Linked DNA regions of Homo sapiens. The gene in region 1 interacts genetically with each later gene. Each region holds a gene or a part of one and is shown in the gene's direction. Other genes may lie near its edges. The genes, in order: POLR2B and TCOF1.

Region 1 (3,813 bases):
CAATCGCTTGACCTTGTGATCCACCTGCCTCGGCCTCCCAAAGTGCTGGGATTACAGGCGTGAGCCACCATGCCCGACCTAAATATCAAGTTATTTTATGGGCTCATCAAACAAAGTGTTTTGGCAGCAGCAACTAAGAATTTCATTGTGGTGGGAAAGATATGATATTTTCTTGGTGGCAGAAGGAGAGGGGAATGGGGTAGTATCAGTTTCAAACCTAAAAGCTGGGGCTTGAGTCTATTGCTTATTAATTTTGGGATCATGGGTAGATTATTAATTCACTCCTCTGATTCATGAGAATAATAATGCTTATCTTGTTTATGGCACAGAGTTGCTGTGAGGATCAGGAAACTTGGTTTGGGGAGGCACTTCCTAAGTAGGAGGTGACTCATGTGTAATCACTTACTATAAGAATGGATACATTGGGAGTGACTAGTCCTAGGATTTGCTTGTGGGAGATATTTAGCCATCAGAGTAGTTGCCTCACAGATTGCTATTCCAGGAGGAATAGACTTTGGCAGTTACCATGATAACAAACACCCAAGCATTTATGGCAAATATGATGTAATTAAAGTTGATTTAAAGAAAGGGCAGTTTTTCTGTTTTCCAGGTGATGTTTTAATGTATGCTCTTAAATTCACTGCAGGCATCAACTCAATTGTGGCCATTGCATCATACACTGGATATAATCAGGAAGACTCTGTTATCATGAATCGTTCAGCTGTAGACCGCGGCTTCTTCAGGTTAGTATTTTGTAAATTTGTCAAAACACAGATACAGTGGAAACACTAATTTTTTATGCAAAAAAAGTTCTTAAAATACAGTTTAACTACGCCGCACTCCAGAAAGTGGAAGGACTGGTTGATGGTCACAAACAGCTGAAGATACTACTTGTATCTCTCAGGATTTTCAAATGCTAGTATTTTGAGCCTTTCTTTTGGTAAGGAAATATACAGTTGCATTTAGATAATATAGAAATGTCCAAAGAAGAAATAAAAATAACTTAGAATCCATAGATAACTATTGTTAAAATTATAGTGTGTTTTCTTTTCGCTCTTTTTTTCCATTATGTTTCAGTTTGATTGTCGACAAACAGACCTCAAATTCAAGGCATATAAAGATTGTTTTAAAAACTGGGAATTTAGTAGAGGGGATGGATTTTCCTTTGTCTGTGTAGTTTCAAAGGGTAGCACTAGAACTCAGAGGACAGATACTATGGCTTAATGTAAAAACTTTTTTTTTTTTTTTTTTTTTGAGACAGAGTCTTTCTGTTGCCAAGACTGGAATGCAGTGGTGCAATCTTGGCTCACTTGCAATCTCTGCCTCCCAGGTTTCAAGAGATTCTCCTACCTCAGCTTCCCAAGTACCTGGGATTACAGGCACGCACCACCATGCCAGAGTTTTTTTTTGTTGTTGTTTGGTATTTTTAGTAGAGACGGGGTTTCACCATGTTGGCCAGGCTGTCTCAAACTCCTGACTTCAGCTGATCCACCCATCTCGGCTTCCCAAAGTGCTAGGATTACAGGCGTGAGCCACCATGCTCAGCCAATGTTAAAACTTCTCACTGGAAGTGTTTGAGTAGAACCTAGGTGACCATCTTTCAGGGTTATTATGTAATGGATTCTTAAATGTGTCGGAGGTTGGATTCATTGACCCCTGGGTCTCTTCCATTTTGACATATAATACTAGGTGGTTAAGGTTATGGGTCAGATGCTACATATGTATAACTCATGTGATAACATTTAGAGTTTAACTCAGATCCTTAATGCAGTTACTCTTGTCCCAGATTCGTAGTTTAAATTGTCTCCCAAATTTCAAGTAAATGAGAAATTGTTGGTATAGTCTCAGCCCTTTTGTTAAAAGAAAATAGACTTTACCTTTAGAACCATGTGTTTTTAGGTCTGTTTTCTATCGCTCATACAAAGAACAGGAGTCTAAAAAAGGATTTGATCAAGAAGAAGTTTTTGAGAAGCCTACACGTGAAACATGCCAGGGTAAGTGACACTAACATTTAAATGATGGAATCCAAAGTTAACTTACTGTGGTTTTCCTAAGTGATTTTGATGGGTTGTGTCACCCTGTGCCTGCCCCTGTCCTCCTCTCCCTTTTTTTGTGCAATGAAAGTGTGTTTTCATGTTATTCTTAGAGTTCACATCTAAGAAAACATGTGTATTTGATAAAAGTCTTTGCACCTAGGAGTGAGCTTGCTATAGACCTTCCTTCCTGGTAGGTCCTGCATTGAGGAGGGAGTTTAGGAAATCAGAGAGGTCATGCAATTTCTGGGGACACACTTCACACCTGTCCCCCTTCCTTTCTAAATTATGGTGTGATCATAATATTTGTTCAGCCACATTGTTTGTAAACATTTAAAAAATAACCAGTGAGAAGAGGATACCTAGCATTTGTTGTTTCTTCTAGAAAACTCAAACTTACTTTCTAGTTATTTATTTTGACAGACACTTAAAACCTGCTTATGCAGTGGGATGGATGGGATGTTCCAGGGAAATGCAATATCTCTGCTACAGTGTTGACTCTGAATAGCATTGCATGAAGTAAAATGTATTTTGTTTCCTTTGCCATCTTCCTGTTACTCCCCTTCCATTGGGTGGCTCTGTGTAGTAGTGAATTGATGTCCAGTGGAGTTAAGATTGAGTTAAGATGAAATCCACAATTTCTGTGGGAGGATGTGTACAGAGGGCATCCATAGATACTCTCTTTTTAATTTAAAAAAATTTTTCTCCTGTACCCACTGATGGCAGAGATATTCTTTCTCTTGTAATATAGAAATCAGAAGATGACAAAAAACATATCCAAAGTCACTCGATAAATGTCTGTCATGGAAGAATCTGCTTTCCCAGTGCTGATTCCAATGTTCTTTTCCTTCATAGACTTTTTTTTTTGTTTTCTGTGTGGGCTGTAGTATTAGAGTTCAGAATAGTTTGTAATATTTGGAATAAGGGTGTGATTCATGGTATAGAGACTCCTGTGGCCTTCTCTCTGACTTGGAACTGATTCATGTATGTGGTTTTTAATCTTTGTTGGGGATTATGTGACATTCCGTGTCTATTTCCTCACAGGCATGAGGCATGCCATTTACGACAAGCTGGATGATGATGGTTTGATAGCTCCAGGGGTTCGTGTATCAGGAGATGATGTTATTATAGGCAAAACAGTCACCTTGCCTGAAAATGAAGATGAATTGGAGAGCACCAATAGACGCTATACCAAGAGAGACTGTAGCACTTTTCTCAGAACTAGCGAGACGGGCATTGTGGATCAGGTTATGGTAACTCTCAATCAGGAAGGATATAAATTTTGTAAAATAAGGGTGAGTACAACTTTGTTCATGTAGCTAGTTTTAGAAAGTAAACCAAATCCACTTAACTAACTTATTTTTATATGAATTTAGGTACGCTCTGTTAGGATTCCACAGATTGGAGACAAATTTGCTAGTCGACATGGTCAAAAGGGTACTTGTGGTATTCAGTATAGACAAGAGGTAGGTATCTTTGATCTCCCTCATGCCCAAACCAGTTTTGTTAAATATTTTTTTTTTAATCAAAATTTGCTTTAACTTAAGAGCTCAAAGATGATACAGGTTGAACTTTTTGATTTTATTGTTGAATAAGTATATGAACATACCATGTTTAAACAGAATTTGGGACATACAGTAATTCAGTTGGGAGAACTGAAATGTCAGTTCTAGTTTAGTATATGTATCTTTGAGTCCCTTTTAAAATTTTTCTTTGTAGGATATGCCTTTCACCTGTGAAGGTATCACCCCTGATATCATCATCAATCCCCATGCCATCC
Region 2 (3,813 bases), on another chromosome or scaffold:
GATTGCTGGCTGCAGCCTGGGTTGGAGGGCAGTGCAGAATAAAAGCAGTAAGACCATGTAGGAGACTATTGGAGTAATACTGATACTGGCATAAGAGGCTGGGGGCTGGGAGACCAAGGTGTCCACAGTTGGAAAGATGTTTTCAAGGGAAAACCAGCACAAGTCAGGGATGAACTGATCTGGTGCCCAGGGAACTTCTCACTTTACTGTGCTGCCTGGCCCAGTAACCCTGTGAAGGTTGAAAGCTCACCCCCATCTACCCCAGGCCTTACCAAGGGCTGCCCTCCACCTTCCGTCCTCACCCTTGCGCCCTAGATACCACCAGCTGTAAGGACATCCCTGGCTTCTGTCACCCCAGGCCTTGCCAAAGGGAAGAAGACCACTCCCAGCCCTCCATAAACACACAACCTCAATGGGCTGAGGCTGTGCAGAGCTCCAGTAGCAGACGCCCCAGAAACCCAGGGCCGCAAGGGGTCTGATGGATCTCAGAGGTAGAAGTAGGGCACTGACTGCCTGGGAAATGTCTGAATTGTGGAAGTGTAGGAAAGAGCTCACAGAGGGAAGGAATTTGCCCAAGGTGTGGCAAGCCAGTGGCAGAGGTGGTGTTCACATCCTGAACTCCTGGCCCTCAGGAGGGCTGCTGTGATCAGATACTTGAGTTTAAGGGGCAGACAGGATGCGCTCTCCTGATTGAGATGCAAGCCCTTCTCTCAGGCCAAGCCCGGTGTGTGCCAGGTGGGAGATGAACGTAATGGTTTTGAGATCTGTTCCAAAGTCAGACAGTCCAGGGTTCCAGTGGGGCTCTGTCCCTTCATATTGATCATGAGTGATTTTACCTCTTTAAGCCTTGTGTACTTTTCTGGAAAATGGATCTAAAGCTAATAGCCGTCTCAGGGAGTTGCTTAAAAATCCAGTGACATTAGGAAAGAGCTTTATCAACTGCTGAAGCCCCTAATACAGAACCTTAGGGGGAAACAGTAATTATTATTCATTTTCTAATTCCATCCTCTTGTTCCAGGGGAAACCCTCAGTAAAACCAGCCCAGGTCAAAGCCTCATCAGTTTCTACTAAGGAGTCTCCAGCAAGAAAGGCGGCCCCAGCCCCTGGGAAGGTGGGGGATGTGACACCCCAGGTCAAAGGAGGGGCCCTGCCCCCAGCCAAGAGGGCCAAGAAGCCAGAAGAGGAGTCAGAGAGTAGTGAGGAGGGATCTGAAAGTGAGGAGGAGGCCCCTGCAGGGACACGAAGCCAGGTGAGGCCTGGAGGAGGGCTGCCCCTTGGAGGACCTGCGGGTCCCCCAGCAGCCTGAGCACTCTGCCATGAGCACCTCTGCCACTGGAGTTGGGGAGAGGGAGGACTATGGTGTGAAGTTGAAGAGCAAGAACAGCCTGCTTCCCACAGGGGAGTCTTGCACTCCACTTTGTCTGTGACCAACTTTACCTCAGTTTCTCTGCCTAGTAAATGGGCCGCTGTCCTCGTCCCAGCCAGTCCTGCTGTGAGGGACTTGAGAAGTTTTGATTGCCTAATCCTCTGACTTCTCAGGACAAACCAGACCCTGAGCAGGCAAACACTACGTTAGCTAAAGGGAATCCAGTTCCCTTCCCCATCTGCTGGGAGTGGGCAGGGCTGCAGCCCCAAGGCCCTGGGTGTATCCCAAGGGCAAGACAGGGGGGCTGGAAAGCAATGGAAGTCAGAGCAGGAAGGAGGAAGAGTGAGGGTCACCCACCCAGCCCCAGGCCTGGGGCAGGACAAGGCGGGGGCATGCAGTAGATAAGCAGATCCCCTGCGTTAGCTGCTGGTAAATGGTAAAGAGGAAGTGGGGGACATAGGAATGGCAACTTGAAGCAGAGTGCTCTGGGCTGGCCTTGGGAGAAGGCGTCTCAGTAAAGACCAGAAGGAGGAAGCACTCTTAGGAAGGTCATTCCAGGCAGGGGCTCAGCAAGTGTCAAGGCCCTGAGGTAGAAGTAGGACTACGAATTGTGACAAATTGTTGTTCCCACCCCATCTACAGGGAACTTCTACGCCTCGGCTGTCTATTTTGCAGTGTCTGGGGGCTACACAGTGTTGGATGGGCATCCACTTTGAGAAGGAACACAAATGTGAATTTTTTTTTTGAGACAGAGTCTTGCTCTGTTGCCCAAGCTGGAGTGCAGTAGCGGCAATCATAGCTCACTGCAGCCTCACTCCTGAGTAGCTAGGAATACAGGCACACACCACCACACCCAGCTTGTGTGTGTGTGTGTGTGTGTGTATAGACAGGGTTTCACTGTGTTTCACAAGCTGTGGACTCAAGCAGTCCTCCCACCTTGGCCTCCCAAAGTGCCGTGATTACAGATATGAGCCACCGCACCTGGCCATAAATGTGAACTTTTATGTAAAATCTGCTTTCTCCATGTTGGCTCAAAAATTTAAAAAGGAGCTAGCCAAGCAAGACCTGTGTGGAGCAGCCTGCACTTTCTGCATGAGAAGCTTCTTAGAAGATCAGAGCTGCTGTTTTCTAGGGTTGTTGGCCCAGGGCTGAACACCCAGGGCCTTCCAGGGAAGACAGGGCCTGCAGCCACCCTGCCAAAGCCCCAAGACAGTGCAGAGCCCCACCGAGGAGTTAGTGAAGAGGGGGCCAGGTGTGCAAACCTTGCCCCATGAGGCTGAGGGTGGGCTTCCAGGGGTCCTGCTGCTGTCCATGTGCAGAAAGTCCAGTGAGGGCCTCCCTCAGTCCCTTCCCCACTTTCAGACTGCCTCTTCATTCCTTCCCTTCCCTGGGCCTTTGCACACCCCCTCCCCACAGCCCAGTCTGATGATGCTCCCGATAAGCCAGTGCCTGTGCCTCCAGAGCTCTCTGGCCAGTGGGAGCCCAGCAGAGGACAGGCTCTAACTACCCAGTGTGCTGGGGCACCAGGGGGAACCATGTTAAGGAAGTGGTGTCTCTTAGGGAGCCAGAGACAGAGGAGGCAGTGGCTAAGTGAAATGGAACAGGGGGCATGGAGGCTCCAGGAGTGAGAGTGTGTGAAGCTGATCGATTTTTGAGAAACCAGGAGGCCAGTGTGGCCAAAGTATCAGTCAAGGTGGGGAGTGGGGAGGGAAGCAGGGGAGGTCTTAGGAGCCTCATTAAGGCCTCTGGACTTTATCCTAAAGGCATCACCAGAGAGTTTTCACAAGCAGGAGAGCAAGCTGCCCTTTCTTTTTCACCAGGTAAAGGCCTCTGAAAAAATTCTCCAGGTCAGAGCTGCCTCAGCCCCTGCCAAGGGGACCCCTGGGAAAGGGGCTACCCCAGCACCCCCTGGGAAGGCAGGGGCTGTAGCCTCCCAGACCAAGGCAGGGAAGCCAGAGGAGGACTCAGAGAGCAGCAGCGAGGAGTCATCTGACAGTGAGGAGGAGACGCCAGCTGCCAAGGCCCTGCTTCAGGTGAGGCCTGAGGAGGGAGACTCCATGCAGCCAGGCCCGTCCCCAGAAGGCCTTCTCAGGACTTGTTCTCCCACTCTGGGCCAGAGCCCCGGGCGTGCCTCAGACCCCAGCCCCTTACTCCCCTCTCACTGTGTGGCATCATTTGCCCTATCTGGTCTTCTGTACGTGGTGTCCTGTGTCTCCTCACACGTCCATCCTCTGGGCTGTCTCCCCTTGTCTTGTTTCTCCAGGCGAAGGCCTCAGGAAAAACCTCTCAGGTCGGAGCTGCCTCAGCCCCTGCCAAGGAGTCCCCCAGGAAAGGAGCTGCCCCAGCGCCCCCTGGGAAGACAGGGCCTGCAGTTGCCAAGGCCCAGGCGGGGAAGCGGGAGGAGGACTCGCAGAGCAGCAGCGAGGAATCGGACAGTGAGGAGGAGG

The links.
Region 2: changes in POLR2B (region 1) and TCOF1 together harm fitness more than expected from each alone (negative genetic interaction), as found in Homo sapiens cells (one large-scale study listed by BioGRID).

Annotation. Positions count from the first base shown.
Region 1 is NC_000004.12:57,020,253-57,024,065, forward strand, and holds part of POLR2B (DNA-directed RNA polymerase II subunit RPB2), read left to right. Parts: intron 1-646; coding exon 647-743; intron 744-1,899; coding exon 1,900-1,994; intron 1,995-3,077; coding exon 3,078-3,328; intron 3,329-3,409; coding exon 3,410-3,499; intron 3,500-3,752; coding exon 3,753-3,813. UniProt on the Homo sapiens protein: Catalytic core component of RNA polymerase II (Pol II), a DNA-dependent RNA polymerase which synthesizes mRNA precursors and many functional non-coding RNAs using the four ribonucleoside triphosphates as substrates.
Region 2 is NC_000005.10:150,370,988-150,374,800, forward strand, and holds part of TCOF1 (treacle protein), read left to right. Parts: intron 1-1,018; coding exon 1,019-1,249; intron 1,250-3,186; coding exon 3,187-3,399; intron 3,400-3,629; coding exon 3,630-3,813.